Linked DNA regions of Homo sapiens: regions 1, 3 and 4 are each linked to region 2. The links come from fine-mapping of genetic effects on gene expression. A gene starts in region 2. Each other region holds a variant in brackets. All regions are shown on one strand. Distances are between the middles of the regions.

Region 1 (8,147 bases), 54 kb after region 2:
TGAGATTCTTAATCCTGAGTTCTAGTTTGATTGCACTGTGGTCTGAGAGATAGTTTGTTATAATTTCTGTTCTTTTACATTTGCTGAGGAGAGCTTTACTTCCAAGTATGTGGTCAATTTTGGAATAGGTGTGGTATGGTGCTGAAAAAAATGTATATTCTGTTGATTTGGGGTGGAGAGTTCTGTAGATGTCTATTATGTCCGCTTGGTGCAGAGCTGAGTTCAATTCCTGTGTATCCTTGTTGACTTTCTGTCTCATTGATCTGTCTAATGTTGACAGTGGGGTGTTAAAGTCTCCCATTATTAATGTTTGGGAGTCTAAGTCTCTTTGTAGGTCACTCAGGACTTGCTTTATGAATCTGGGTGCTCCTGTATTGGGTGCATATATATTTAGGATAGTTAGCTCCTCTTGTTGAATTGATCCCTTTACCATTATGTAATGGCCTTCTTTGTCTCTTTTGATCTTTGTTGGTTTAAAGTCTGTTTTATCAGAGACTAGGATTGCAACCCCTGCCTTTTTTAGTTTTCCATTTGCTTGGTAGATCTTCCTCCATCCTTTTATTTTGAGCCTATGTGTGTCTCTGCACGTGAGATGGGTTTCCTGAATACAGCACACTGATGGGTCTTGACTCTTTATCCAACTTGCCAGTCTGTGTCTTTTAATTGGAGCATTTAGTCCATTTACATTTAAAGTTAATATTGTTATGTGTGAATTTGATCCTGTCATTCTGATGTTAGCTGGTGATTTTGCTCGTTAGTTGATGCAGTTTCTTCCTAGTCTCGATGGTCTTTACATTTTGGCATGATTTTGCAGCGGCTGGTACCGGTTGTTCGTTTCCATGTTTAGCGCTTCCTTCAGGAGCTCTTTTAGGGCAGGCCTGGTGGTGACAAAATCTCTCAGCATTTGCTTGTCTGTAAAGTATTTTATTTCTCCTTCACTTATGAAGCTTAGTTTGGCTGGATATGAAATTCTGGGTTGAAAATTCTTTTCTTTAAGAATGTTGAATATTGGCCCCCACTCTCTTCTGGCTTGTAGGGTTTCTGCCGAGAGATCCGCTGTTAGTCTGATGGGCTTCCCTTTGAGGGTAACCCGACCTTTCTTTCTGGCTGCCCTTAACATTTTTTCCTTCATTTCAACTTTGGTGAATCTGACAATTATGTGTCTTGGAGTTGCTCTTCTCGAGGAATATCTTTGTGGCGTTCTCTGTATTTCCTGAATCTGAATGTTGGCCTGCCTTGCTAGATTGGGGAAGTTCTCCTGGATAATATCCTGCAGAGTGTTTTCCAACTTGGTTCCATTCTCCGCATCACTTTCAGGTACACCAATCAGACGTAGCTTTGGTCTTTTCACATAGTCCCATATTTCTTGGAGGCTTTGCTCATTTCTTTTTATTCTTTTTTCTCTAAACTTCCCTTCTCGCTTCATTTCATTCATTTCATCTTCCATTGCTGATACCCTTTCTTCCAGTTGATCGCATCGGCTCCTGAGGCTTCTGCATTCTTCACGTAGTTCTCGAGCCTTGGTTTTCAGCTCCATGAGCTCCTTTAAGCACTTCTCTGTATTGGTTATTCTAGTTATACATTCTTCTAAATTTTTTTCAAAGTTTTCAACTTCTTTGCCTTTGGTTTGAATGTCCTCCCGTAGCTCAGAGTAATTTGATCGTCTGAAGCCTTCTTCTCTCAGCTCGTCAAAGTCATTCTCCATCCAGCTTTGTTCCGTTGCTGGTGAGGAACTGCATTCCTTTGGAGGAGGAGAGGTGCTCTGCATTTTAGAGTTTCCAGTTTTTCTGTTCTGTTTTTTCCCCATCTTTGTGGTTTTATCTACTTTTGGTCTTTGATGATGGTGATGTACAGATGGGTTTTTGGTGTGGATGTCCTTTCTGTTTGTTAGTTTTCCTTCTAACAGACAGGACCCTCAGCTGCATGTCTGTTGGAATACCCTGCCATGTGAGGTGTCAGTGTGCCCCTGCTGGGGGGTGCCTCTGAGTTAGGCTGCTCGGGGGTCAGGGGTCAGGGACCCACTTGAGGAGGCGGTCTGCCCATTCTCAGATCTCCAGCTGCGTACTGGGAGAACCACTGCTCTCTTCAAAGCTGTCAGACAGGGACATTTAAGTCTGCAGAGGTTCCTGCTGTCTTTTTGTTTGTCTGTGCCCTGCCCCCAGAGGTGGAGCCTACAGAGGCAGGCAGGCCTCCTTGAGCTGTGGTGGGCTCCACCCAGTTGGAGCTTCCTGGCTGCTTCGTTTACCTAAGCAAGCCTGGGCAATGGCGGGCGCCCGTCCCCCAGCCTCGCTGCCGCCTTGCAGTTTGATCTCAGACTGCTGTGCTAGCAATCAGCGAGACTCCGTGGGCGTAGGACCCTCCGAGCCAGGTGTGGGATATAGTCCCGTGGTGCGCCGTTTTTTAAGCCAGTCTGAAAAGCGCAATATTCGGGTGGGAGTGACTCGATTTTCCAGGTGCGTCCGTCACCCCTTTCTTTGACTCGGAAAGGGAACTCCCTGACCCCTTGCGCTTCCCAGGTGAGGCAATGCCTCGCCCTGCTTCGGCTCGCGCACGGTGCGCGCACCCACTGGCCTGCGCCCACTGTCTGGCACTCCCTAGTGAGATGAACCCGGTACCTCAGATGGAAATGCAGAAATCACCCGTCTTCTGCGTCGCTCACGCTGGGAGCTGTAGACCGGAGCTGTTCCTATTCGGCCATCTTGGCTCCTCCCCTATATGTTTTATTATACTTTAAGTTCTAGGGTACATGTGTACAACGTGCAGGTTTGTTACATGTGTATACATGTGCCATGTTGGTGTGCTGTACCCATTAACTCGTCATTTACATTAGGTGTATCTCCTAATGCTATCCCTCCCCCGTCCCCCCACCCCACAACAGGCCCCGGTGTGTGATGTTCCCTTTCCTGTGTCCAAGTGTTCTCCTTGTTCAATTCCCACCTATGAGTGAGAACATGCGGTGTTTGGTATTTTGTCCTTGCGATAGTTTGTTGAGAATGATGGTTTCCAGCTTCATCCACGTTCTTTGTGTTGAGAATGATGGTTTCCAGCTTCATCCACGTTCCTACAAAGAACGTGAACTCATCATTTTTTATGGCTGCGTAGTATTCCATGGTGTATATGTGCCACATTTTCTTTATCCAGTCTATCACTGTTGGACATTTGGGTTGGTTCCAAGTCTGCTATTGTGATTAGCGCTGCAATAAACATACGTGTGCATGTGTCTTTATAGCAGCATGATTTATATTCCTTCGGGTATATACCCAGTAATGGGATGGCTGGGTCAAATGGTATTTCTAGTTCTAAATCCCTGAGGAATCGCCACACTGACTTCCACAATGGTTGAACTAGTTTACAGTCCCACCAACAGTGTAAAAGTGTTCCTATTTCTCCATATCCTCTCCAGCACCTGTTGTTTCCTGACTTTTTAATGATCACCATTCTAACTGGTGTGAGATGGTACCTCATTATGGTTCTGATTTGCATTTCTCTGATGGCCAGTGATGATGAGCATTTTTTTATGTGTCTGTTGGCTGCATAAATGTCTTCTTTTGAGAAGCGTCTGTTCATATCCTTCACCCACTTTTTGATGGGGTTGTTTTTTTCTTGTAAATTTGTTTGAGTTCATTGTAGATTCTGGATATTAGCCCTTTGCCAGATGAGTAGATTGCAAAAATTTTCTCTCGTTCTGTAGGTTGCCTGTTCACTCTGATGGTGGTTTCTTCTGCTGTGCAGAAGCTCTATAGTTTAATTAGATCCCATTTGTCAATTTTGGCTTTTGTTGCCATTGCCTTTGGTGTTTTAGACATGAAGTCCTTGCCCATGCCTATGTTCTGAATGGTATTGCCTAGGTTTTCTTCTAGGGTTTTTAGGGTTGTAGGTCTAACATTTAAGTCTTTAATCCATCTTGAATTAATTTTTGTATAAGGTGTAAGGAAGGGATCCAGTTTCAGCTTTCTACATATGGCAAGCCAGTTTTCCCAGCACCATTTGTTAAATGGTAATCTATTGTTTTTAAAATTCAGACGGGAAAATGATTTTCTACCTGGAATTCTATACTTATACAAAGTATCAAGTGTGAGGGTGGAGAAAAGAAAAACATCTTCAGTCAGCAAAGAATCAGAATATTTGCCTCCAGCAATACAGGTAGAAAATCAGGAGATAGGAAGACATGAAATCTAGGAAATTGTTGCTGCAAGCCAGAAGAGTAGTCAAGGATAGTCACAGGATACCTATGCAGCAGGTTTGGAGAGCAGCAGCCCCAAATGAAGCAGCAAGTTGAGATAGAAACTTTCTGTGATTAGGGGTGGGGAGAGACAGGACTCATTTTATAAATACATGATATGATGAGACTTCAGAAAAAAAAAAGTAAGAATGACTTTAAGAAATAATATATAAGAGTAAAGTGAAATAATTAGGAATTCCAGAAACAAACCGAAAAACTGTGTAAGAAATAACTATAGTAAAACTGCTTGGGTGAGGGTCCAACTACTTGACTGCAGTGATATTTATGTATCTTCGAAATATAAACACTGTTAGGTTACTTAACTAAAAATTATATAAATATATTGGAAGGAATTGGAGAGAGGTTGTGGCTGTGTTGTAACAGCTAAATCCTCACATATTAGAGAAAGACATAAATAGTGTCTAACATTGGTAAATCAAGAATAGCAATATAGGCTGCACGTGATGGCTCACGCCTGTAACCCCAGCACTTGAGAGGATGTGTTGGGAGGAAGGTTTGAGCCTAGGCTTTGGAGATCAGCCTAGACAACACAGTGGGACTTGATCTCTGCAAAAAATAAAAAAATTAGCCAGGCTTGGTGGCTTGGCTGTGTTCTCAGTTGCTTGGGA[G/A]GCTGAGGTGTGAGAATCGCTTGAGCCTGGGAGGTTGAGGCTGTAGGGAGCTGTGGTGGTGTCACTGCATTCCAGCCTGAATAACAGAGCAAGACACTGTCACTAAAAAAAGAATAGCAATATAAACATATTATTTATAAATGCAGCAGCTTGTATTAAAAAGAGATTATCTTTAGGGAATGGAATCTGGTGTTGGAGAGATATGGAGAAAAATGGTTGATATATTCATTATAACTTTTTCAGTACTATTTGATTTTTATAAGCATACATATTGCATCGCTTTTATATAAACATGATTTTAAAAATTCTTTTCAAATGATTCTCAGAGTTCAAAAGTTTTCAAACCTCTTTTCAGTTATCAAAATGATGAGAATATACAGACTGGCTGTGCTGTAATCTGTTCAGTTTACTTTGATTGATATAGTATAAGCCCCTATTTCTTAAACTAGCCTATGTGGTTTTAGTCTAGGTGTTCTAATTCTTACTTTACTGATGAAGGTGTCTTAAAACTTAATTAGCTAATGCCTATAAAGGGATTTCAGGTACTTGGATAAATGGCTTAGTCAATGTTGAAGCTATTTTTTCTAATGAGAAATTTTAAGGTATATTTAGCTATGACTTTTATTTGGCATCAAATGACAAGAAAATATAGAAAACTGAACATTAGAACAACCACTGTGACATTCTATTACAGTCTGTTGTAGTTTTTAAAACTTCAGATATTTTTTAAATCAAAAGAAATGTATTTTATACTTCTTAGAGGTCACCAAAATGAAGGAGGAATAAAATATAGAGGGTAAAGTTAAATCAAATTTTAAAAGTAACAAAAATCATCCTCATATCATTACCTGGTATCAGATGATATTAAAGAAAGAGAAAAAGGTTGTGATATAAAAATTTAAATCATATTTATTGAGCAACTACTGTAAGTCAGACCTTGTTGATAGCTTATTTCAAATAGAGCTGACTTTTGAACAATATGGGTTTGAGCTGTGTGGACATGCTTGTATGTGTTCTTTTTGTCTAACCAAATGCAGACTGAAAATACAGTATTCTCAGATGCAACCCAAGTATATGGAGGACTGACTTTTCATATACACGGGTTGTAGGGAGTCAACTGTAGGATTTAAGTATGCATGGATTTGGTTATATGGGGATTACTCTGGAACTAACAATCCTCCACATGGATGACTGTACATAATCTCTTCCAACCCATGTCATTTTCATTGTGCAGATAAGGAAATGAACTTCAGAAATCTTAAGTGACTTGTTCAAAATTACCTAGTTAATGTAAATTTATAGCTTAGGCCTGTACAATCTAACTCAAAGTTGTACGCAATTCAACATGCTGTGAGGTTTTCTGATAAAGCATGTGAAGCAAAAATGAAGATAATGAGGGAGATAATACTAACAGGGTACAGTGGCAGTTGTTGTGTATTGCTACCAAATTTGAAAGGCTTTGAGTTCACAAGTTGGGCCTCAAACTTTCCGACAAACTTGTGTTTAGTTTGGAAAAGTAGAGAATGAGGATAAAAAATAATTTGGGGAGATTTAGATATAGGCTGTTGTTGAGTAACAGGGAAAAGAACTTAAATTTCTAGATTGGTGGTTCTCAAAGTGGGGTCCCTGGACTAGCAGCATCGACATTTCCTGAAAGCTTATTAGAAATGCAAATTCTTGGGCCCCAATCTAGATCCAGACATGTTTCTCAGACCTTAGTTACATAGGAATTCCATGGGCAGCTAGTTACAAAAATTCCTGGGTCCCACCTTCAGAGATTCTGATTCAGTTGGTGTGAGGTGGGGACTAGAAATTTGTACCTCTAACAAACTTTCAGGTGACGTTGGTGCTGCCATTCTGCAGACCATGTTTTTACTTGAATTGTAGATCACCATATTCCATAATAGGTTATCAACTAATTATTGTTCAAAGAGTGAATATATGAATGTGTGAACTTTGCATCAGGACAAGGAATTGGTACAGTGTAGTGGGATAGGTAGAAAGGAGGGTAAGAATGGAAGAACCAGGTAGATAGGCAGAACAGACAGATCAGTCAAAAGGCCTAGTAGTTAGGTTTGTACCTAGAGTGGTTGATGTTTACATCAAGTACTTATGTTAGGAGATGATCTAGAATATTTCTTAGCAGCCCTAGTTTGGTTTTATTAATCCTCCATTTATTAGGTCTGAAACATGGCAAGAAATGGGCTCTTTTTATTAGTGATTGCAGTTACTTTTAACCAAAAGACCATGAATCATTGGAGGGAAGAAGCAGCAAGTAGCAATTAATATTTTAAGTTTTAGCATCATATTATTATTTTTTCTTCCAAGGCAACTCCCCAAATGGGATGTCTAACCAAGACCCTGTCAACATCCTCTAATCTTTCCCTTTCACATCAGGAGTAAGAAGTAGTGCTTGAGCATATATAATTTTTTTAAAAATCAACTTCCTTAGTGTTAAATATTCTAAAATAAAGATTTAAAACTTAAAAAAATTAAGTATAAAACATATTTTCATCTCAAAAAAAAACCCACACCCCCTATACCTTTATATCATTTCCGACTTCTTACCCAAATCTGGAAAGAAATGTTGAAGTTGCATTTACAGATTCAATGGAACATACTGTATTTGTTTTCAAGAACAAAGGTTCAGAAATATATTGTGTAGGTTGTTTGTAATTTGAGGGTCATATTTAACAAAAACAAACACCTCCATACAGAATTCAGAAATCCATAGAAAATTTTATTATGTTTAGTGGTACTAGGTATAGGGCAACTTTTTCATTTCTTGTAGAGAGAGACCAGAATATTCACTGAATTATAGAGTGGGGAGGAACCTTGGGAGACTCAAACCCTGTTCATTCAGACCAGGGGGTAAAATAAAGGGAAAAAATGAAGTTTGATTTTGTGTTCCACATACTAAAAGATAAACAAAAATACAAACTCTAAGCCTTTGAATTAGAAGACTGAGGAGGAAAGGACCCACTATACTGGAGAAATTTATTTTTCAAGTTGTCAAGGGTATTAGAAATGTCTCTCAAATTTTGGCTTATGAATCTATATTATATTGAGTTTCTCCAGAAACAGACCCTGAGAAAAGGATTCAAGTCCAAGTGGTTTACTTGAGACCTGATTTCAGGAAAAACCAGTAGAGAAGTGAGGAAGAGAGATAGAGAAGGGAAGGCAGCCAATAGAGTGCATCATCATGCAAGTTACCACTGAGGATAGAAGGAGCTTCATCCTGCCGGAGAACACTGGAGCCAATGTAGAACATGTGCCTCAAAAATTCTCCCACTAAC
Region 2 (8,121 bases):
CAAGGTAGTAATGTTATCTCTTTATAAAACAAGAGAAACTTCAAGTTTCCAAGGTTAAATAACCTGCCAATGATTTACAGCTAGAGAGAGAAAGAGAAAGAGAGGAAGGGAGGGAAGGACAGGGAAGGAAGAAGACATCTCAATAAGATCTGACCCAAATGATGTTTTAAAAATGACTGTTTTTTTCATTGCACATTCATAAGTCTTTACCTAATGGGTTAGGTGTCCCATTTCCGGGCAAATCAAAATACCTCACAAACACCAAACTGTTCTACAATCATGTTTCCTTTAGGTCGAACCCAAAGTTACAAGCATCTTGAAGCCAGGACTCTGTCTTATGCGTGTGTTATGTCCCCAAGTGCCTATCAAGTAGTCAAAGTGCTTTTAAAAGTTCCATATCATATCAGATCTTCTTTTCTGTGCTCTTTTAAACATTCATCTTAAGATGAAGCCTTGCTGAAAATGGAAAGAGGCATAGAATCTCAGAGCCAAATGGGACCTTACAAAGGTCAGTCTATCTTGTTATTCATCATTACCATACCCATGATAATATTCTCTATGTCCCCTGAAAAAAAAACGGTGGGAAGTAAAAGTGAGATAAATCTAATCATCTATGAATTGATTATTGCCATCATAAAGAAACTTCGAATTTCATAATTAAATGACGTTTATCAAGTCAGATGATGACGTAAGCCCAGTCCCCTTGACACTTATACCTAGGAATCTCTTAGGCTTAAAAACAAAAAAAAAATCTGGCAATTTGACAACCTGTAAAACTCTCATTTTAAAAGTTCAGTTCTCCAAATAAGATAATGCACACCCCCAAAACAAACGGCCAGCAAGTCTGATATAAACATTTTTATAGCCTTCAGAATATCAGGTCCACCAGTTTTGATGGATATTTTTAACAGTTAAATTAACACGATAAAGTTAAGGCCACGCTATATATCAAACATATCAAAATATCAAAAATAGCAGCAAAAGGAAAAATCTATATGTCATAAAACAAGTAAAGCATTCTCATCAACAAATCATCAGCTACAGTCATATTTTTAAAGCTTAAAAATCTTTTCAACTCTAAAACTGGCTCCACGCAAATATTAATTACATGCCAAACCTTGTAAGCAGTACTATGAACATCATTATAACTCTATTAACTAAAACAGTAGTTAAATCAACAACTTGTTAGACTAACAGCTTACTTGAAGAAAATTTTGCTTCCATACCACTAAGCTTCCATAAGTCACAACATCTGTGCCCTATTCAAAGACTTAATTCCAAAATAAAGGTTGATGGAAAAAACTCGTCATAAAGGTTCACAAATTAGGGTGTTATAACACTATAAGCCAAAAAAGGAAGCTGTTTAAATGAGTAGCACACAGGAATACAAAACCAGTGTCTACCTCTACAACAAGAAGAGTTGACTCTAAACACTACACCTGCTCTAAAACACAGTCCATTTGCCTACACTGCTTAAGTTTTTAAGCTCTGAATTAAAAATCAAGTCCTTCCAATGCTACATTGAGATTTTTTAAAACTGTTTTCTTCTTCCATGTGAAAACCAATGTGTTCCTTCAAAAAGTAATCAACAATTCATTTTCACAACCACTAAGAAATTATCATGTAAATAATTCCTGCATCAGCTATGCATATTACCTGGCTTCAGTCTTCCACAGAGCTTTGCCTAACTAGATCTGCCTCTGTGGAGGTATAAATATTCTCTCAGTCCTTAACATAAACGAAGTCAGGATAGTAAACTGGTAAGGTCCCCTCCAACTGTCCTCTCACTCAACTGTAAGCAACATCCCCAATTCTCCTTCATGGAATAGAACAGCACACAAATTCAATCTAGACTCTGGCATCAATTTAAAAAGGTATAGCATTAAGAACTTTGTCTTGGAACCAAGTATCTGCGGAGTCGGCATACAGAAACAGCGTACAATTAATAACATTCCATTTACCATACTATACTCTGTGTAAATCAGATTTCATTACAGTGCTGGAAACGTGGTGGTAAACTGTCAGTGGAAATTCTCAGCCCAGAAGAGACACTCAATCCCATCATGCAAACTTTGCTTCCCTCATAACCAACTACCCTGACTCACCTACCATGTAACAGGATTCTCCTCCTTCTAAATCACACTATTCAAGAAATGTGCACACATCTCTCCTTTTAATAAATACTAGTAAAACTTCAGTTTACGGTTTTATGAAATACTGAAAACCAATCTTTGACCAAGCTTAAGTTCTGCCCCTCTACTTTTCTTACCAAGAGCCCTCAAATAAATAACTACTCGCAGTGTTCTGATACTCCTCCTCCCACCAAAGACTGGTGTCCTTATTTTCCCAAATCGCTGCCTCCCATTAATTACCACTTAAGTCCATTTCTCTTGCATGAGGCAGACTTTTTTTTTTTTTTTTTTTTTAGCACAGTCCTTAATAAGCAGGCTTCTAGTCTGGCATACCTGGGAAGAAAACTCAGAGACTAACTCCCAAATATGACAGGAAAACAGTAACATAACACGAGGGTCAAGAGATGGGAAACAGGCGCGTGACTGTTTTGGTTAGAACAGCCGGGGCACACAGTCCATGAAATCAGGTATTTAACACGTAAATCTTGTTCCTGCGGTTTGGTAAAATAAGCACGGGCAGTGTGAGAGACGTCCCACAAGCTGGAGGGCAGGGACGAGGGTCAATCTAGAGAGCTCCAGAAGCTGTCAGGGCAGAGCCGGGGGAGTGGGCACAAGACAGAAGAAAACTAGCTGTAGGGGATTCTGCGGCTGGGTGGGCTAAAATGGTGCCTTCTCCAGGGTGGAAGGCCATGAGAAGTGGACCCGGAGGCTTCATTCCATCGGGCTCCGGTCCCTAGGGTTTCTGGGCTCACAGCTCAAGTTTCACCGGGAAAAAAAGCGGCAAACGTGCATCCCGGCACCTTAACCTACGAGGGTTCCCAGAGAATGAGCGAGGAAGTAACGGTCCCCGGAGCAAACCCGGAGTTCGGCGCACGAAGCACCATCGCCAACCCTCGGCCATCCGCACGGCGACCCGCGCGGCCGCGGGGGAGGGCAGCGGGCCGCCGGCTCAGCATTCGCTGGCCTGGCCCTTCCAGGGCCTCGCCCCGGGCGCGGCGAAAAGTTTCCAGCCAAAGTCCTCGGCACTCGCTCGCACAACCAACCGCCTCGCTGCTCCAGAGAACGGCTGGCAGAGCCGGCCGCGGCGCCCGCACCCTCAGTGGCGGCTCCCTCAGCCCACGCCGGCCGCCGAGGTTCACCTACCACAGAGCCTGGAGAAGAGCAGCAGCGGGAAGAGCAGCAGCAGCAGCGGAGGTGGCGTCGGGGGCTGCAGCAGGAGCCCGGCTCCGAGGAGAGAAGCGGAGGAAAGTTGTGCTTTGCCGCCTCCAGGACACAGCGGGGACGGCCGCAGGGTCCGCGCCATCCCCCACCCTCCCCCCGGCCCGCTCGCCCGCCCGCCCCCCGGCTCCCCCGGCCCCGGCGCCTCAGGCTCTGGGCGGAGGCTGTGGAAGGTCCGGCGCGCGCGTCCCCAGCTCCCAGCTCTAGCGCCGTCGCTGCCGGCTGACACTTGGCCGAACGCTGGCGGCTGCCTCGACACCGCCGTCGCCGACGCCACTGCCGAGGCTGAAGCGGGAGCCGCCCGCCGCCGCCGCCACTCCCCTCCCCTCGGCACCCGCCCGCGTCGAACTCCTGGGAACTCGGAACGCACCACCCCGCCCCACGCAAGAGGGGGAAAAGAAACCGACTCTCAGAGCGGGCGCCCGACTCGCCCGCCCTCCCCGCGCAACTCCACCTCCCGTCTGATCCCCGGGCGCAAGCCCTGTCTCCTCCCACCCCGCCCTCCTACACATGCTCCTCCCCTTTCAAAAAAAAATATTCTTTTCATCCACTTTGATAACGGGGTTTCTCCCACAGCAGAGATTTAAAAGGGACAGGAAAATCTGGAATAGGTTAGTCGGCCCCGCCCCTCGTTCCTGCCTGGTTTCCCCCCTTCCCTGCCTTTCCAATGGTCTCGCCCACTCCACCCCTCGCGGGTCCACGGGGGCCCCGGCGCCGACTGAGGCGAGGGCTGCGGGACAATCACGCTCGGCCTTCTCCTCTCCCGGGCGGCGCTCTCCCTGTGGCGGGGACCTGGGACGAGGGGGTGGGGTGGGGAGGGGAAGGCAGGAGGGGGCTGCCCTTCCGTTGCCCATGCTAAAGGTTCCTGTGTAGGAAGCTGGACGCAGCCTGCTGGACTAGTAATCTTCCTCCTCGCTGGGGCGCGGGGCACTGAAGGGAGGGAGAGACTTTCTCCTCCTTCCTGTTCCCCGGGACAGCTGTGCTCTCCGAATCCTTCCCTTCTTCCCAGCCCACTTATTCCCCGCTCGCCAAGGCACGTTTGCACAGGCATTTTTCCTGCTCTTTTTTCTGGGAGGGCAGCTTGGTAGAATGGTCGGCGGAGCTGGGCGAGGAGAGGGGTCTTCAGAAGGTTTGCTTTCTTGCTCTTGCTTCTCACTGGCCGCTGGGCTGTCCACTTTCCGCGCCGGGCGACTGGCAACAGGAGGCCATGGATTTCCCCCAACGAGTGCGTTGGTGTTTTTCTTTGGTTTTGTTTCCTTTGCATGTTCGTATGTGTAGTTTTATTTTCTTGCCTGTTTTCGTTTGATGGCAGAGAGGCGACCTCGGGAAGTATTAAACATTTGCCCGTATAAGAAGAGCGTCTGTGGTCCACCATGACCCTCGCTCATCCCAGGTGGCTCTCCGCCCTGCCCTCTCCATCCTCCCGCCTCGCACAGTACCGGCAGCTTGACCTTGGAGCCACTGCCACATTGGTTCCGCGGGGGGAGTAGGAGGGTGGACAATTTGGACTGTCCAGCGTAGGGGGTGAATTGAAGGCAGAGGACACCAGTCCTCAGGCCTGACACTATTAATTTTATGTAGGTCCTGTCATCTCCACGAGATAGCCATAAATGTGTTCCAGTAACAGGAAAGCTGAACAAGGATCAGCCGCCCAGAAGTTAGCCTGTCGCAGCTAAACTAATGCATGCTTGCGGCCAAGACCACGCTGTCCTCGGCTTTCAGTCAATAGGGTCTTCCCACCTTCCGCCCGCTGGATTACAAGGCTTTACTAACCTCCAAGGCTACAAGCCATTCTACACCCTGCCCACCTCTTTTTTCTTTCTTAACTTCTGCCTCCCTTCCAGTCTCCCAGCGCTCGGTCTAGTGCCTTTTTCCCTCCAGCCCTTTCCTCTTCCCTCCCTCCCTGTGCCTGTCTGCCTCTGTCGTCCCCTGTAAGCTTGTCTCCTGCAGCCAAGGCTTTCTATCACCTATTCTCAAGATGCACTTATGAATAAACCTTGTCCTGCATCGCTCCGGGAGATCCCCTGATGATGATCATAATTGACAAAATGTAGCTATTGTGACATTCCTCAGCTGTGCTGACACCACCGTTTCCCTTGAGAAAATTTCTTTTTCTATATTCGCATTCCCTAAACCTAATTTCACTGCTAAATTTAGACAGCTCACTGCGCAGCCACTAGCTAATTATCTGTTTAGATAGCACTTTAACACGTTGTTGAGACTCAGTTAAATGTTAAACAACCAAAATTTTAATATCACTAGCCAATTTCATTCTTCCAGGTTTTCCCTGATGGCTCCACATCTCCAAGAAAAGTAATTTAGCCAACATTTCAAAAAATACCAAAGGCTTAACTTGGGTAGGGGCCATCGGGCAATTGCTACAGAGACCATAAGGAATTAGCAGGTTAAGTTCGTCTCAAAAAGATGACATGGAGCTTTAACAAATATATTTCCTCCATACTTACAGAAATTGAATAGTGGTCTGCTATGATATTCTCTGACCTAAAGTGAAGAGAGAGCATGGAAGAGCATTATTTATAGATGTTATATAAGCATTAAAAGAGCACCATGCTGGTGTTTTATGTGCATATATGTATTATATTCTAATAATAATAATTTGTGTTTATACAGCATCTTCAACTAAAGATGTCAAAGCACAAGCTCACTTCCCACGGAAGGTAGCAATTACTATTATCTACTTGACAGCTACAAGAACCTAGGCACAGAGGTTAAGTGCTCTGCAAATACTACCAGCCAGTGGTGGTTTTCCTGCCAGAACCAAGTTCTTGCCTTCCAGTGGACACCATTGATCTCTCAAGATGATTCTTTAAGTTAAAAAGTAAGATAACTCAAATTTCTACTTTCTATAATAAAAGTGCCCAATCTTAAATTACATTCTCCTCAGATGAGTGAATTTTAGACATACTCACCCCAAGCTTTCCTGTTGGAAATTTTTACTGGCCACAGAAAAAGATTTTACATTACATATACAACTCATGTTTTTCAAGGGCAGAAATACTATTAATTTTTTTAAAACCTTTAGCATGAGAGTATTAGTGCGTTCTATGCCATTTTTAGTCTTCTAACTTTATACATAAGTTCACATTTATTGTTTGAATAACAAACTGTTTAAGGAATACTTAATTATAGCTAACTTATTAATATTTCTGACACCATTGAATAACAAAGTATACATGCATTTTTTCAGAAAAAAATTATCTGAACAGAAAGCAATGTAATCCTAATGCCAACAATAGTTTCATTGTTTTGGGTTAAGAGTACTGATGGTGTCCATCCTACTTTCGGCTCAAAGATTGTTTGCCAATTATCAAGGTTCATTAACTCTTAACTAAAAAACAAAGGTTGACATCTTAACAAAGAAGTAATTATGTACAGTGCTGGGCATTTTACATTTACTCAAATAATCCAAGTGAAAAGTTTGAGACTATTATTAGAATTTCATAGCTGACTCTGAAACAAAGGAGGTATTTTACAGGAGAGGTAAGACATTATATACTTCAGCTAATTCTTCTTAACATCAGCAAATTCTATAACCTGCTGTGTGAGGACGCATAGCTTTTCCTTTAGTAAAAGAGATGAATGATATTTTGTAGAATATTTGAACTTTGTACTATATTTGATAATAAGCTTATGTTATCCAGTTAGGATCACAGTTTTTGTAAAGAGAATTATGCAAATAATAAAAAACAAACTGCAAAATCGCAGAAAAGTCCATCCACTTGCAAAACGTTCACCAACCTTACTCTTATTAAATGCAAGTCTTTCTTACTGAACAGATCTTCCCTGTATGCTCATATGACTTTCTCCCTCCTATTTCCTTTGAATCTTTGATAAAATTTAACTTTATCATTGAGGCTCTCCAGGACCACATCATATGAAAGAGCTTCCCCCACCCTAATCCCTATGCCCTTAACTTGCTTTATTTTCTCCATTGCCCTTACCATCTGACATGTCTCTAATTTACTGTCTGTTCCCTTTCACTAGAATGAACAGTCCACAAGGGCAAGCAAGTATCTATATTTTCACTGTTAAAACTCAAGTAGGCCAGGCACAGTGCCTCCTGCCTGAAATCCCACCACTTTGGGAGGCCAAGGCTGGCAGATTGCTTGGGTCCAGGAGTTCAAGACGAGCCTGGCAACATGGCTGTGTTAGTCTGTTCTCATGCTGCTAATAACGACATACTTGAGATTGTGTAATTTATAAAGGAAAGAGGTTTAATTGACTCACAGTTCCACATGGCTTGGGAGGCCTTAATCATGGAAGAAGGCAAGGAGGAGCAAAGTGGTGGCAGGCAAGAGAACATGTCCAGGAAAACTCCCCTTTATAAAACCATCAGATCTCATGAGACTTATTCACTATCAGGAGAACAGCACAGGAAAGACCTGCCCCCATGATTCGATCACCTTCCACTAGGTCCCTTCCACAACACGTGGGAATTGTGGGAGCTACAATTAAAGATGAGATTTGGGTGGGTACACAGCCAAACCATATCAATAGCAAAACCTCCTTTCTCCTATAAATACAAAAAAAAAAAAATTAGCCGGGTGTAGTGATGTGCTCTTGTAGTCCCAGCTACTTTGAAGGCTGAGGTACGAGAATCAGCTGAGCCCAGGAGGTCGAGGCTGCAGTGAGCCAAGATTGCATCCCTGTACTCTAGCCTAGGCAGCTGGAGAAAGACCCTGTCCCCCAAAAAAAACCAAAACCAGAACAAAACAAAACAAAAACCCCAAGTACCTAGAATAATGTCTGC
Region 3 (8,147 bases), 460 kb before region 2:
GGGACAGAGACCAAATACATAATTCTTATTACATCACAATATCACACCCACCTTTTCATTCCAGCTGTCATGGGTCCAACAGGCTGCTCAAATGTAAGCCTGAAAGCACCTCTCCTCAGCTGCCCTAAATATCTCTTACTTTCTGACCTGGGCATCTCTGCCTCCTCAGCAAGGGAAGGGGGATAGGTGGGGGTGGAGGCCTCATTCCACTCATCCATGCATACACATGCGTGACCTTGGAAGTGCAGGGAGTCAACACCTCATCGGGCAACCTTTGATCAATGGGGAACAGGAGCTTGTGTTGCTCAGGTGAAAGATTCTAAGATGCGTTCTACACAGATCCTAAGAAAGTGCCCAGAGGGACCCAGACAACAGTGGACCATAGTGTAAGCTGCTTGATATTGCACCCTTGCATTGACTTGCCCTCCTTCCCTGTTTCACTCTTTTTCACCCCCACTCCTGTTCCATGCGATTACATCCCAAAGTAACTGTAGGCAGGCCCTTGTCTCAGGCTGTGCTTTTGTGGAGAATGCATGCTAAGGCTGTCTGATTACTCCACTGCTATATTTCTAGCCCCGAGAATGGTATTGAGCACATAATAGACACTATATGAATATTTTTTGATGAAACTCTTGAGTAAGTAAATCCATTTCCCATCAATAGAAATAATACAGCATACACATTTCACAAGGTCCACAAAATTGAAATAAACTAGTCAGAGTTCTAAAAATAAGATATATTCTTAATTTTGCTGAGTGTCTCAACAAATACTGAGCTCCACTTAAATGTCTGGCACTAGGATTGATCTGTACAGGAGACAAAGATAAATAATATCTCTTCTCCCATGATATTATCTCAGCGTTATCAAGAAGAGGGATGCCCAGAGTAGCTATGAGCAGTTCAAGGAGCCCATTAGATCTGCCACCAATTATCACCCGTAGGTCTCCTGTGGAGTATGTGAGATGAAGGAAATTAGCAGCACATAAAAAAGCAGACCATATTTGCCCTGCCAGAGAGAATATAAATCTTAAGACATTTTGTGACTGGCTTTCCAAGTGCTCAAATCAACTGTAGAAAATAGAGAAATTCTTGTTACCTAAGGGATGGAATTCAATAGCAGTACTTAAGATAGATAAAAATAAGGATGACAAACCTATCTCTACCAATGACAAGATTCTTTTTTTTGAAAGCCAGAGGGTTAAGGGATCTAATGCTATAACTATGGGAAAATGAGTATTATAAAATCCAGGTCTCTTACATATAGGCACATAATATTACAAAATCTCAGAAAAGCTGCAATACAACTTTTGCTGTCACTAGTGGCTTAGCATTGACTGAAGTCATTGCTCCCTGGGAGCTAAATTACCCCAGAGTTGACAAGCCAGTCTAGTCTCAGTAGAAAACAGAAGGCACATTCAAAAGTGATAATTGAATAGAGTTTAATATAGGGGCTATATATAAAGATGTAGTAGGGCTTAGGGGAGACCAGGGGTAGCATAGTTCTTAGGGGCTAGCAACATTGGGAAGCCACTTTCTTTCCTATGACTGCAGGGAAATGGGAGACAGCCATGAGAGAGGGTAGCTGCAGGGAGAGAGCCTCCCAACAGGAACTGTGGCCTTCATCATGGATGTGTAGCCAAGCCTTGGCAACCCCTCAGTTAGAAACCTAGGGATATAAGTATCTCGATGCCACTCTCCCTCCTATTGAGGGTTTTAAGAATACAAATTTTATGTAACGATTAAATGGTATAAGATGTTGTATTAGTTTTCTAGGACTGCTGTCACAAACTACCACAAACTTGGTGGCTTAAAATCAAAGAAATTCAGTTTCTTACAAATATGAAGACTAGAGGTCCAAAATCAAGGTGTTAGCAGGGCTATGCTTCCTCCAAAGGCTCTAGGGGACAAACTGTTCCTTGACTCTTCCAGCTTCTGGGGCTGTGAGCTTCATTCCAGTTATTTCAGTCTTCTCATGGCCTTCTCCTCCTTTCCCTGTGTCATCTCCTCTTCTGTTTCTTATAAGGACATTAGTCATTGGATTTAAGGCCCACCCCATTAATTCAGGAGGATCTCTTCTTGAGATCCTTAATTTAATTACATCTGCAAAAATCCTTTTTCCAAATTAGATCATATTTACAGGTGCTTTTCACATATATCTTGAGGGGTCACCATTAATCCCACTAAAGATATAATGAAGTAAAATATTTTCAGCAAATTAAGCATGCTATCAACACTGAGAAAACTGGAGGCGTGTAGTGGATACTGTGGTGCACTGTCCCATTTCCCCGTTCACGACTGAAGCACTAATTTTTTCTGCTGCTGGGAGTGTTGCCTGCTGATGGCTCATAGCTGCATCACTTTCCAAGAATTTCCTTAATCTAAAGAAAGCTGCCTCTCTAAGTTTTTGCTTTCTCCCTGGGAACAGCCCACTGGTAATGAGTGGATAATGAAGGAGGATGCACAAAGGTCTGGCTTTGTGCCTCAATTCTTGATAACTCTAAAGGGACATCCCAGCTCTAGAGCTGTCTTGTGGGAAGGGCTGAGGCTTCTGTTGCAACTTCGTTGGAAGGCAGCTTCTCCTTCCATCCCCTCTTGCTTCCCTCACTCCCTTGTAGGTGTTGTTCTCAAGAGCACTTCTTGATAAAGCTTTTGTAGGCAAATTTCACCACAGTGTCTGTTTTCCAGGGGCCTTGATTTAAGACATACTCCCACATGAGATGAACCATCAATAGTCTAAGTAGCTCAGAAGGAGGCTTTTTGGAGAACCATCCTCCCAATGCCTAAACAAAAGAAGTTTTATGCTCCATTGTGTGGGCTCTCTGTCTTACTATTGCCCCTGTGATAAGAAACATGAGGTAAGAAGTTAAACACAAAAACTAGAAGAATGAAAACCTTTTCAAAATAGAAGTAATATTTTTCAAGAATTGGACAGAAGTCTAAGTGGATGGTTAGTGGGTATTGAGAAATTAAATCAAGATCTTATCATATCATAGAAGATTTGAGAATATATTTTTAAACAGAAAATGAAAGCCAAAAGTCCTGGATATTGAGAACAGAAATTAAGAAAAAATATCTAAGTGTGGCTAGAGAAAAAGGAACATGTGCTAAAAGTAAAAAAGTAATGAATCCATAGCAATCCTGGGATGGCACAAGTTTCCCACAGTGTTGAATCCTCTCTTTTGACAGTAGAGACAAGCAGTGTGGAGTCTTCCTCCTCAGTGATTTGCACCAACAGCCAACCTTTCAACAGGTGTGGTTTCTCGGTACTGACCTCTAAGCTGCAGAGACTAAGCAGCATCCAGCCTGGCCTCCAGACACTTCCTGTCTATACCCCCAGTAGAAGTAATTGATAGAAAGGCATCAAAATCCTCTCCACTGGGGCTTGTTTTGCCATGTCAGAATCCAAAATCATTTTTGAAAATCACACCTAAGACTTTACAGAGAGAGATATATATATATACATATATATACACATGTGTATATACATGTATAACCTGTGCTAATTTGGGCTGTTCAGCACAGAGAAAATCTTGTACAGAACATGGATCCAAGGCATATCAGATATACTTTGGTTCTTGGCTCTGCCACTTTCTAGCTGTGGCCTTACACAGAAGCTATATCGGGGGAACCTGCCCCCAATATTTAAATGTAGGTTCTTTCTATTTTCCGTAAGTGTCAGCTGGCTGAGAAATAAAGAGAAAGAGTACAAAGAGAGGAATTTTACAGCTGGGCTGCTGGGGGTGACATCACATATCGGTAGGACCATGATGCCCACCTGAGCCTCAAAACCAGCAGGTTTTTATTAAGGATTTCAAAAGGGGAGGGGATGTATGAACAGGGAGGAGGTCACAAAGATCACATGCTTCAAAGGGCAAAAAGCAGAACAAAGATCACTTGCTTCTGAGGAAACAGGACAAAGGGCAAAA[G/A]GCAGAACTTCTGATAAGGGTCTATGTTCAGTGATGCACATATTGTCTTGATAAACATCTTAACAGAAAACAGGGTTCGAGAGCAGAGAACCAGTCTGATCAAAAATTTACCAGGATGGAGTTTCCCAATCCTAGTAAGCCTGAGGGTACTGCAGGAGACCAGAGCGTATCTCAGTCCTTATCTCAACCACATAGGACAGACATTCCCAGAGTGGCCGTTTATAGACCTCCCTCCAGGAATGAATTCCTTTCCCAGGGTATTAATATCAATATTCCTTGCTAGGAAAAGAATTTAGCGATATCTTCCCTACTTGCATGTCCGTTTATAGGCTCTCTGCAAGAAGAAAAATATGGCTCTTTTTGCCTGACCCCACAGGTAGTCAGACCTTATGGTTGCCTTCCCTTGCTCCCTAAAAATTGCTGTTATTCTGTTCTTTTTCAAGGTGCACTGATTTCATATTGTTCAAATACACATGTTTTACCATGAATTTGTACAGTTAACACAATTATCATAGTAGTCCTGAGGTGATGTACATCCTCAGCTTACGAAGATAACAGGATTAAGAGATTAAAGTAAAACAGGTGTAAGAAATTATAAAAGTATTATTTGGGAACTGATAAATGTCCATGAAATCTTCACAATTTATGTTCCTCTGCCGCAGCTCCAGCTGTTCCCTCCATTCGGGGTCCCTGACTTCTCGCAACTTCTCTCCCTTTCTTTTTATATAAATGTGCCATGGTGATGAAGGCTTGTTCGTTCTCTTGGTTTTGACACAGGATTCTTTGACTGGTCTGGCACACTAAAAACAAGCTGATTAAACAGGGAAACCTAATCCCAAAATTTACTACAGTGGAGCCCCCAATAGACTTAATCCAAATTGTGGGATTTAGTCCAGAAAGACTTTCTGCCACCTGATCTAACGCCTCAGCTCCAGGCACAATGGATAAATGAGCTTGAGAGACTTCAAAAATTTGTTTCTTTAGTTTAGTTATGTCCAAGGATAAATTATCTTCCCTACCCAGAAGGTGTCCTTTGACCATTTCCCATGAATGATCAGTCTCATTGTAGGAATATGGTGTGATACAGAAATCAGAAGTATTCTAATCGCACTGCATTTGCATGTGATGTTCGAGACTCATAAGCCGATCCCCAAGCCAAATAACAGACTGTCTTAAATCATTAATTTGATTAGCTAATATTTGATCGATGCCTTGTTGAGAATTCCACATTTGGGTGGAACTGGCTTGCCAATCATTAGCAAAATGAGCCATTTGAATAGATTGGTGTAATGCCACTCTGGCAGTGGTGGCCAGTGCAGTGACTGTAATTAGGCCCATGATCACAGCAATTACAGTGAAAACAAATCTCTTAGATCTTTTGAGAATTCGTTGTAACACTTCATTAATTAAATGTACTGAGGGGGAAGATTCCCAAGGTCTGGGTAAAGTTACTGGTATCTAGATTCCTTCTTGAGTTTGAACCAACATTACACTTTTCCTGAAGTCAAAATGGGAATGAACACAAGTGTATAAATGACAATTATTGCATTGGACAGTTTGACTGTTTGTCCAAATTTTGATATTTCCCATTAACAGCATGTAAGGAGGCTTAACACAACTCTGTATAGGAATAGTCAGGTTGGAGGTAAACAAAGCAGAATGTTTGAATCTATGTCGATACTGAGGGAGAGGAGTGGTGGTGGCAATGCCCGATGTTCTCCGCTGTAAAGAAGCAATCTGAGGTGCCCAGGGATGCTGAAGAGGTGGAGGGGTATACCCGGGTTGAGAAGAATTATTATTATGCCAATTGGAGTCCCATAAAGTAGGATCAGCATCAAAAAGAGGAAAAGGGTTCAAAGGGGATTTACCATGGGGTTCAGAATCACGGATGCAAGGGGCGGTAGTGGGGACAACAGACAGAAAAGTTTCCCCCTCCCATACTCAGAGTCTGGACATGACAATAGCCAATTTCCTATGTTCTGGGTGTTCTGGGCTCAGAATGGGGAATATCATATGAGGCCTCAGGTGGGGGGTAATGCCCTTATATTCCCATTTTAAGGGAAAGAATGAGCTGAACCTCCTACGCAAAGTAGGATGATGATCCTCGCCCTCCCAATAAGAAATAAAATAAGTACCCTCCAGGCATTCCCTTCTGCCAGAGGAGTAATTGTTTTTTAAATAGCCCTTTGGTGCCCAGCCTATTACTAAACCATATGGGTTTTTTTTAATACTGCTGCATGTGAGTTAACACAGTCTTCCCAAATTAAAGTTTTAGATGGGCCCTCAAAATTTTTAGGACATGGTTTTCCTACAGGTTTATATTGAAAGTATGGGGTATCTCCTATTACTCCCCTTTTTATTTGTCTTAAAGGAGAAAGGGAGAGGCCGGAGACCAAATGTCCTCCTTCCCTTGTAGCTAATCTCTCTGGAAGATAAGCAGACCAGACTTGAGTTTCTAGATGGATACAACCAGGTGCATGTCCGAGGCACAGAGGACGGTATTTATAACCCATAGTAACATTAAATGCAATGCCCTCTTCTCCTGGTTGAGCAGGGCAACGGTCATCTCTAGCTCCAGGCATCCACACACGATCGTTAGTATAGATTTCCTCAGGAGCATCCATCCAGGTGAAAGTTCGAATAAGTGGAGGAAAAGGCACATAAGCCCAATAAGAATAATTTTGTGTAGCAGGTAAATCAGTTTGAGGGGAAACTGGTGAGACAGAAAGTATAAGGAGGAGAATTATTAAATAAAACCAATTTAAGCAAGGTCCAGTGCTGAAGGAAGAAGAGAAGAACAGAGGGTTGTTATTTTCAGACTAATAGAAATGGCGAGATTTTTAGGTTCATAAGGAGAAAAAGAAAGGGAATTAGGAGAAGTGGGATTAGTTAGAGGGGTCTCCATTGCCATTAGGGAGGATTAAACCAGACCCATTTTGATTTGGCATGCCAGTTTCTGCAGAGTCGGCACAGATCTCACCAGGTATGATGGCGGTCTCTGACGCAGATGTCTTTTCCTTGTGGTTTTCATTGTCAGTATTTACAGGAAGTTTAAGTCTTCTAGTGGGCACCCAGACAGGGGATTGATGATCTCCAGGTGAAACACAAGCATACCCTCGTCCCCACATTAAAATTGTTCCAGGTTCCCAGGTATTGGTCTGGGAGTTTTTCCATAATACTGGCTTGCTTCCATTTAGGGAGAATTTTTTCCCTGTATAATGGCGTTCAGCTGCAGTCAGAGTATTGTCTTTAGGAACATTTAGAAAGTTTAAAGTAAACAATGCTAAATGTAATTGGGAGTGGGGAGTGGTTACATTATGCTTTTGTTGCTCAGACTGTTTGGACAATGGAGTTTTGAAAGTGCGATTGGCCCATTCCACCACAGCCTGTCTCTGAGGAAGTACTTTCTATTCATAATGAGCTGCAGGCTCCTGATTATTGATAATGGTACAGTAAAAGCAAATTTTTCACAATCCGATTTATGTAAAACAATATGAAAGAAACAGTCTTTAAGGTCAATCACTATGAGAGGCCAATTTTTAGGTATTAAAGCAGGGGCAGGCACGCCGGGTTGGACAGGTCCCATAGGTTTAATTACAGCATTAATGGCCCTTAAATCAGTTACCATCCTCCGCTCACCTGAATTTTTTTTTTTTTTTTTTTTTTTTTTTACTGGAAACACAGGAGAATTCCAGGACAAAAGAGACGGTTCCACATTTCCAACTTATAACTGTTCAGAAACCAATTGAGTTAAAGCCTCCAGTTTTTCTTTAGAGAGCAGCCACTGCTGAATCCAAACAGGTGTTTCAGATTTCCATTACAAAGTTACAGGATTAGGAGGCATGGCAGTGGCCGTCATTAAAAGGGATAACCTAAACCAGCCCTGTCTTCTTTTACAGTAACTTGAAGAGGTTTAGTAATTCCTTCATGTCTTGGACCGAGACCAAGTCTGGGAACAAACCCCATGTTTTCCATTATATGTTGACTGGGAACACTATAAGAGTTACATGGAATATTAATTTCAGCCCCCCACTGCGCCAGCAAATCTCTACCCCAAATATTAATGGGGGTTGGTGTGATATAAGGCTGAATTGTACCCTTTTGACCATCAGCACCAGTGCAAGGCAAGATAAATGTGCTCTGGTGAAATTCATCAGCTTTTCCAACACCTACTAGTCCCATGTTAGCGGGATGTTTAAGCCAGGAGGAAGGCCATAAATT
Region 4 (8,000 bases), 110 kb before region 2:
GGAAAAATTGAAATGCATATTAAAATTCATCTAATATATATGAAGTAGTATTATGTAATATTAAGGTAGATAGTGATAAGTTAAAAATGTGTATGCTAAATACTAAATAAATGTATTTAAATTAAAAAATACTTAATCACTCAGCTAATTTAAAAGAAGGCAGGAAAAGTGAAAAAAAGGACAAAGATCCAATGGGACAAACAGAAGACAAATAACAAGATGATGGACTTAAGCTGAACCACAGCAATAAATAAGTTAAGTAAAAGTGGCAATAAACATAAACATAGCAATTTAAGGTAAGGATTTTCAGATTGGTAACAAGGCAATACCCAACTACATGTGACCAATATGAAAATTATTGTAAATATGTTAAGACATAGATTGGTTAAAAGCAAAGGGATGGAAAAACACACACTATACACAAATCATAAAAAAAAAAGTTTGAAAACCAGAGTAGCTATAGTAATATCAGACAAAGTAACTTCAGGACAAATAAAATTATCAGAAATCAAAAAGGATCTTTCATAAATGATAAAAGGATCAGTTTATCAAGAAGACATAACAATCCTACATGTGTACATATCCAATAAGAGAACTACAAAAATATATGAATAACCGACAGAATTGAAAGGAGAAATGGATATATTCACAAATGTAGTAGAAAATAACATTCCCATCTTAGTTACTATAGAAATGAAAAAGGAAAATCAGTACATATTTATAAGACTTGAACAACACTATCAACCAACTTGACCTAAGTGACATTTATAAACCACCACATCCAACAACAGCGTAACATACGTTAGTTTCAGTACACATAAAAACATTCACTAAGACAGACTATACTCTGGGTTTTAAAAGAAGTCTCAATATACTTAAAAGATTGAAGTGAAACAGATATATTTTCTAACCATAAAAAAATTAACGAAAAATAAATAATTAAAACATTTGAAAATTTCAAAATGTTTGTAAAATATACTTCTAAATAACTAATTAAGCAAAGAAATAAAAGATAAACTAGAAAATATTTAACTGAATAATGATATCTTAAAAAGCCAAAGTTTGCATAATTTCAAACAAAGAAGTGCTCAAAGGAAACTTTGTATTTTTAAATGCTTGTATTAGAAAAGAAGAAAGGACTGAAATTAATGATCTAAGCTTAAGAAACTGAAAAAAGAACAAATTAAATCCAAAGGAAGTAGAAAAAAAGAGTGAAAAATCAATAAACAAGCAAAACAAACACACAAACAATGGAGAGAATTAATAAAATCAAAATCTGTTTCTTTGAAAATATTAATAAAATGGGAAAACCCCTAGCAAGAAAAAGAGAAAACACAAATCAATATCAAAATGAAAAAGGTGACATTACTGCTGATCCCATATAAATTAAAAGGTTAAAAAAGTGTATTATGAAAAATCTGATGCCAATTAACTTTGACAACCTAGATGAAACTAATAAATATACTGAAAGGCACAATTAAAATCCTTCCACAAAGAAACTCCAGGCCCAGATGATTTCACTAGTAAATTCTACCAAACATTTTAAAGAAGGAATAACACTGCTCTTAAAAATTATTTCAGCAAATGGAGAAAAAGAGAATACTTTGAAACTCCTTTTATGAGATTAACATCATCTGGATACTAAAACCAGAAAAATACATTACAAAAAAAGGAAAAAGGTTTTTTTCTTCACAACATCCCAAAACTTTAAACCAAAATGGTCCTCAACAGATGAATGAATATAAAAAATTATAGTATACTCATAAAATAGGACACTTCTCAGCAATAAAACAAAGTTTATTCATGCAATAACATGGGTGAATCTTAAAAACATTATACTGAGCAAAAGAAATTGGACGCAAAAGAGCACACTGGGATTCCATTCATGTGAGGTTCTTTTAAAATGGCATAACTAATATATTGTGACAGAAATCACAACAATGGTTGCCAGAGAAAGGAAGTGTGGGATGATGGTGGTGGTAGTGGTGATACTGATGGTGGAGGGTATACATGAGAAATTTTTCAGGTGATGGAAAAGTTCTTGCTTGGGGCAATGGTTACATCCATGTACATATTTGGCAAGGCTATGAAAATGTACACTTAAAATATGGCATGGTATTATGTAAACTCCAACTCAATAAAGTTTTTTTAAAAAAAACTCTAACTTGTCATTTTATTATAATTACTCCGTTTTGGAGAAACATGGGTAGGGAGATTAAGTAAACTGAGAAGTCATTGACATAGTCTGGAATCTGCTACGAAAAAAGTACATATTAAATTCTTAATAAATACTTTACAACAGACTGTCCCTGATGCAGAAGTTTCTCCGTTAAAAAGTATCCAATTGCTTATTTGGATGACTGAGTTCCTAATCTAGAGAGATGATTTCTCCACACTAAAGGAGCAACACATAAAGAACTGGCCACCACATATAATTCACAAAATATGGATTCTTCAAGGCATATAGGATATTACACTCATATCTATTAAGTACCTCTCTAAAAGAATTAATATAATATTATTAAAACTGTGAACCAAAGATTGATTTCTCTTTCACTTTTTTAAATAGTTATGAGAGAGGTCGACTTTGTTTCAGGATCAGCAACTATAAAGATTGTACACTAATCAGGCAAAATTTACAACAACGTTAATTAGGCAGTTGTTTAATGAGATACATAATTGTTACTGTTCTCCAAGATAATTACACATATGCGTACGCTAGTCATATGAATGTCTCTCATTATTTTAGCAGACCCTTAGTATTCACAGATTTAACATTGCTGGTTCCAAGCATTCATGAGTAAGCTTAAAAGGTTTATGACAGGTAGTAATTTATAATTTTGTTGAGACATAAATTGGAATCAAGACCTGGAAGGTTTTCAATATGAGGCTAATCATTTAGCTATATCCATTTCTCAAGGTGTCTTTTATTCTCAACTCTTATATATGAGTTTTATAAAAGATAGGGGTATTTAGTAATGCAGGGTTTCTCAAAATTCTATGAAGTATTCTCTGTGAATGTCAATGGGGTTGCTGTATTATTAATCAACTTTTTTCTTTTAAATTTGAAATTTTGTCTGTTAATTTTTAAGTTAATTATTAGTTCTCTAATATCTACAATCAGTTGTGATCAGTGCAGACTGCCATCACATATTATACAAGTTAAATGTGTAAAGTCTGCCTGGATCTTTTTTTTTTTTTTTGAGACAGAGTCTTGCTCTGTCACCCAGGCTGGAGTGCAGTGGTGTGACCTCGGCTCACTGCAAGCT[G/A]TCTCCCAGGTTCACACCATTCTTCTGCCTCAGCCTTCCGAGTAGCTTGGACTACAGGTCCCGCCGCCACACTCAGCTAATTTTTTGTATTTTTAGTAGAGACGGGGTTTCACCGTGTTAGCCAGGATGGTCTCGATCTCCTGACCTCGTGATCTGCCCATCTCGGCCTCCCAAAGTGCTGGGATTACAGGTGTGAGCCACCGCGCCCAGCCAGTTTGCCTAGATCTTATTCCCCAAGACTTGAGATTTATTTGCTTATAGTTCCTCTGTCCCAATGTCTTCTGTCTGTGTATTACATCCCATAAATCCTTTCCTGTTAACCCACTAAGAGAATGACAGATTTCTCCCAAACCACACATGCTGCTATCAGAGTAGGTGCTCAGTAAACACTTACTGAAAAGCTATCATTGCATAGAAACTGACTCCCACTTTTAGTCAGAGGTCCCCACAGATATCTTGGGTGCTAGCTTTGTTGAGAAACCTGTGCCAGCTGGACTGGAAATCTTGAGGTCTGAATTACTACTTGCAAAGAACAGGGCAGGGATAGGTCTGAGATGGTTCATGGGAAGGGAGTGAATGCTGTGAAAAGACGTTCTAGATCCTTGGGACTTAGATAGACTGGAGGAGAGGTTCTAGCATTTAAGAAAGAAGGCAAGAGAACATGAAAGTTGGCTCAATAATGGCAACATGATTAAAACAGACAGCATTAGGCTTAGCTTAGGTAAAACTACAATTACAACTTATAAGGACTGACAAAAGATTCTTCCCTTACTACCTGCCTTATCCATATAGCAGGTAGCTATATAGCCAAGTTTTATTACAGCCAAGATTTATAGTAAGACAAGCACTGTTTAAGATGCTTTGGTTATACTCATAGTCTTACACTATGCCCTTGAGGCAATATCACTGTCCCCATATCACAGATGAAGAAACTGAGGCCTAGAATGATTGAGCAATGGTTCCAAGTATGTAGAGCTAAGATTCAAATTCATCTTTATGTAACTCCAAAGTCTGTGCCTTAAACCATCACATAAAACTTCCCATCTTGAGTATATCCAGTCTCTTAAACTGCTTGCAGAAAGGGGCTAAAAAGTGGGAAGACAATGAACATTTGAGAGGGCAGATGGCATATAAGTGAGGAGAAAGACCAGTGATGCTCAAGACTGGCGAGCTTTGCCACATGCTCTGGTTTATCGTCATCCGTACGAGTCTAAGTTACTTCACCTCCTGCTTGAGCTCCAGCCTCAATTAGAGGAAAACAAAGGCAAGGCTTTTCTTAAGCAGTAATGAGACTCTGAGAGTTTCCCATTCTGCCCCAGCCCAGGGCTGAACATACAGTGGTCATTTGTTGTAGGATAATGCCTTAAAAATTTATGAGGAGGGTATTTCCCCTCTCTTTTTGAGTGTCTGTTTATACTCAGAGTGATATAGTGCAGTACCTCAAAATGCAATGTCTAGTCCCCTAATTTGTAATATTATAGATTGTAATGAGTCAGTTAAAGAAGAAATGACTACAGAAAGAAAGTCCTCATGGCTAACTTTTCAAATACAGGCTGCTATCATGAGGTTTATTTGCAAGATAGAATATTGGATATTTTATCCCACAAGGTAGCACTGAATTTTTCTGAAGTCAACCACAGAGTTGTAACAGCTTAGTTGTTGAAAATGCTGTCTTAACCAAAAGGAAGGCAGTGTTTCTTGTTATCACTGGTAAATAAATTTCATTACTTCTACTGAGTATACATTCTAGGTTTTAATTTTTCAAAGCGAAATGTGATACGACACATTTTAATGAAATTTCTTATTTTGGTTTATGGTCTTGCTTAATTCTCATATTAAAATACACAAGAAAGTGATACTTTACCTAAATTTTAATACATATGCAAAGCAAAGTACCTAATTAAAGCAGATAGATGGTAAAGGTGATGAATTATTTGCAGGCAAATGATATCCAAATATAATTCCAAGATGCTCTTAATCATAAATCCTAACCATTTCTGGGGTACAAATGCACATATGCACTGTTTTCCATAACTAATAAATGCCTACACATTTTAACACCAGAAAACCATGCTGTCATTTTCACAAGGGGCATCTCTGCTTTTCAATGCGATGCCCTAATGCTGTACCTATTTACCCACTCATACCATTTTATCTCCAAATTTTCCCATAAGGTAAACCTTAGTTTCATCAACACACCCGAACACCCTCAAAGATGGTAGCTGTCTTTTCTGTATCAAGCACAGTATTGTCACAAAGCCATCAAGTAGAGAAAATCACCTATCATCATACTACACAGTATCTTAAAAAATACACATCTTAAAAGATGTGTTCTCAGAGAAGCTATGCCAAAAATCATTCCAGTACTGCCTAGATGTTGTAATGATCAAAATTTTACATGCTAAAATAAGAACCAAAATTGAATTCCTCTCTAGAGATCATTAATATGGGCCTTCCCAAATCTCATATTTAATCTAGCATCTAAGTTCCTTCTTGCTGTCTTCCTTATCTACATGTATAATAAATATCGATTAGAGAAAAATTAGATAAATATTTTTAAATAATAAATGAATAAAAAGGTAAGGGTATAGATAAATGTGGGCCTCCTTAGAAATGCCACCTTATTTCATACATTAACTCAGTTCTTCTTTTTAAAAACTTAATTTTTATGTCTTTTTGAAATAACCATAAGTAATTTCAAAGCTAACTGTTGACCCTTAACTCAAAGAACTAGAAAAAGACACTCTGTTAAGATTTTCTAAGTGGTTAATAATTTATGCCATTCTTTGCAAAAATAAGAGTAAAAATTAAAACAGAAAAGGCCGCCTAAAATCTTCAATACGGAATGTATTTTAGTTCCTAAAACAACAGGCTATATACTAAGTGAAGAATGCCAGTTCCCTTATATTCCTTCCTATTGAAAGATGAGACAATACAGAAATAATTTCCCTTACCAACAATCTATTTTTCCTACTGAGGGTGTAATAGAAATGTAGAAAATGAAATACAAAAGGGTCTCTATCCATTTACCTAATGGTTACTTTCTAGAAGCCTTCTAAGTTATCTCTTGAACATATTTTTACATGTATTTTTGGGGGGATCTTAAATTTAATTGAATGATATTTTTCAACATTTTCCCAGAAGAAAAAAAAAAGAAAATAAAGGTAACATATATAGTTTCTCCTTCTGAAGGAAAATAACCTAATAATGGTTAAGAAGGTAAAATACAAAGAGAAACTGTCTGCTATGGAAAGTTAATATTAACTTTCAGGAACACCAATTTTTTAAATATAAAACCCAAAGAATGCAGTTTTATTTGAATTGAGAAGTAACTGTAGTCTCAATTTGGCATTTCCCCCCACAAAGACACTAAAGTTTTAAGTGACCTGCACAGAGGCAGCTTGAGCTAGAACTCAGTTTATGAGTTTAGGAGAGCCAGAGAGCATCAGTGATTAGAATGAAAGTTCACAGCACCAGTGACTTTAAAAGGAAAGTGAAGCAGATAATACAAAAGCTGGAGAATCCTTCCAGTGAAGGTAGGTTGCATGATTAATAAAATGAGTCAAGGATTTTTCTTGTTTTCAATGCACCCTACAGTGTCACTATTTAATTTTTACATAGTGATACTGACTTAGATGCTACTCCATGAGGCAAGAACAGTGAAAACTATTTTCTCTTCATGTACACGTAATTCATATGGCCAAATAGAGTTTGGGTATTTTCTTCTGGCCCCTAAAACAGGCTAATAACTACAAATAACAGGCCATCTACTTAGTGTGGAATTGGTAAATGTCATTGCAGGATGACATTTCTTGACCTGATAGTGAAAGGAATCACTCTGTTAAGATAGGAACATTTTCACTGTAACAAATAACTAAATGTAGACTTTTGGAAAAATAGTAGAGGAAATAAATTTTTTAAAATACCAATGCAAAAAAACATTTAACAGTTAAAAACATTATTTTACCTACTCCCTGAACAAATTGGATGGCCCCACCCTCTGGGTGACCCTGGCTGGAATTGGTAATACTTATGGAGACCTCCTTGGGAGCCATCAGAGGCTGTTACTGAAGCAGAAGCAGCTCTTCCCTCGGTCCCAGGAAGTTAGTTAAAACACAGTGAGAAATGTCATCATGTTTGCAATATCTAGTTTGAAATCTGATGAGAATTGTGGTTCTGTGTCTATGAGAACTGAGCTCTACAGAGGTGAATGGACTGAAAATTAATAATTTGATGTTCTGAAATAATCTCATCCTAAGTAATATCTACTTGTGAAAGAATGTATGGGCCCTGTCCTCCAGGAATTTATAATCTTGTTTCATGTGGCTTGTCATTCAAACAGTTAAACAACAAAGCGAGGCAATTTGAACACAAGTGGGAGGCCTTTCTATGCTTTTACTTGTCTTTATCTCCCATGGTACTGATACAAACAGAAGACACTGGGTAGAAGAGGGTGGTTGCCTGGCAAAGGTCCCACCCTCAAGCCTGGAGACCAGCGGCCCTAAATGGGGACAACATTCCTGTTTTCATGCCCAAGAAGTTGCCTTTTGGCCCACCGTGCCCACTATCCTGTACCCATATAAACCAAAACCCCAGGCTCCAAAAGCTGACCAGCAGGCAAGGAGAGGAGGGGACAAGCAGATGGATGGCGGAACAATGTGACAGAGAAATAGAGAAGAGGAGCAACATTTGAACACTGAGAGGAGTTTGGCTGGAGGTGGTGGAAGAGGA

Direction of the effects. Positions count from the first base shown, and alleles are read on the strand shown. Sizes are in standard deviations (SD) of each study's normalised expression. Not every link is listed here.
For the expression in B cells of the gene that starts at base 3,637 in region 2, allele G in region 3 goes with a lower level than allele A (large effect, 1.4 SD a copy in Schmiedel 2018).

Evidence for each region. PIP is the estimated chance that this variant, and not a neighbour inherited with it, causes the effect. A credible set is the group of variants that fine-mapping cannot tell apart.
Region 1: its variant is the best candidate, but not a certain one, in a credible set for the expression of NECTIN3 in whole blood (INTERVAL, PIP 0.51).
Region 3: its variant is the best candidate, but not a certain one, in a credible set for the expression of NECTIN3 in B cells (Schmiedel 2018, PIP 0.75).
Region 4: its variant is the best candidate, but not a certain one, in a credible set for the expression of NECTIN3 in fibroblasts (GTEx, PIP 0.63).

The regions. Positions count from the first base shown.
Region 1 is chr3:111,013,282-111,021,428 of GRCh38, reverse strand. All of the region lies in intron 2 of LOC151760 (putative uncharacterized protein LOC151760), which reads left to right. Among named protein-coding and RNA genes, the nearest start is that of NECTIN3-AS1, 53 kb to the left of the region's middle. The variant G/A (reference allele first, on the strand shown) is at 4,852.
Region 2 is chr3:111,067,332-111,075,452 of GRCh38, reverse strand. NECTIN3 (nectin cell adhesion molecule 3) reads right to left here and starts at 3,637. Exons shown (of 6, transcript NM_015480.3): 1 at 3,276-3,637. The coding sequence starts at 3,435. It overlaps NECTIN3-AS1 (NECTIN3 antisense RNA 1), which reads left to right and starts at 5,494. Exons shown (of 4, transcript NR_045114.1): 1 at 5,494-5,663; 2 at 5,982-6,189. LOC151760 (putative uncharacterized protein LOC151760) reads left to right here and starts at 3,687. Exons shown (of 4, transcript XR_007096272.1): 1 at 3,687-3,961; 2 at 5,982-6,189. RefSeq lists a silencer at 3,810-3,909.
Region 3 is chr3:111,525,935-111,534,081 of GRCh38, reverse strand. All of the region lies in intron 2 of LOC105374039 (a long non-coding RNA gene), which reads right to left. Among named protein-coding and RNA genes, the nearest start is that of CD96, 12 kb to the left of the region's middle. The variant G/A (reference allele first, on the strand shown) is at 3,927.
Region 4 is chr3:111,175,094-111,183,093 of GRCh38, reverse strand. It overlaps a transcript of NECTIN3 not described here. Among named protein-coding and RNA genes, the nearest start is that of NECTIN3, 110 kb to the right of the region's middle. The variant G/A (reference allele first, on the strand shown) is at 3,270.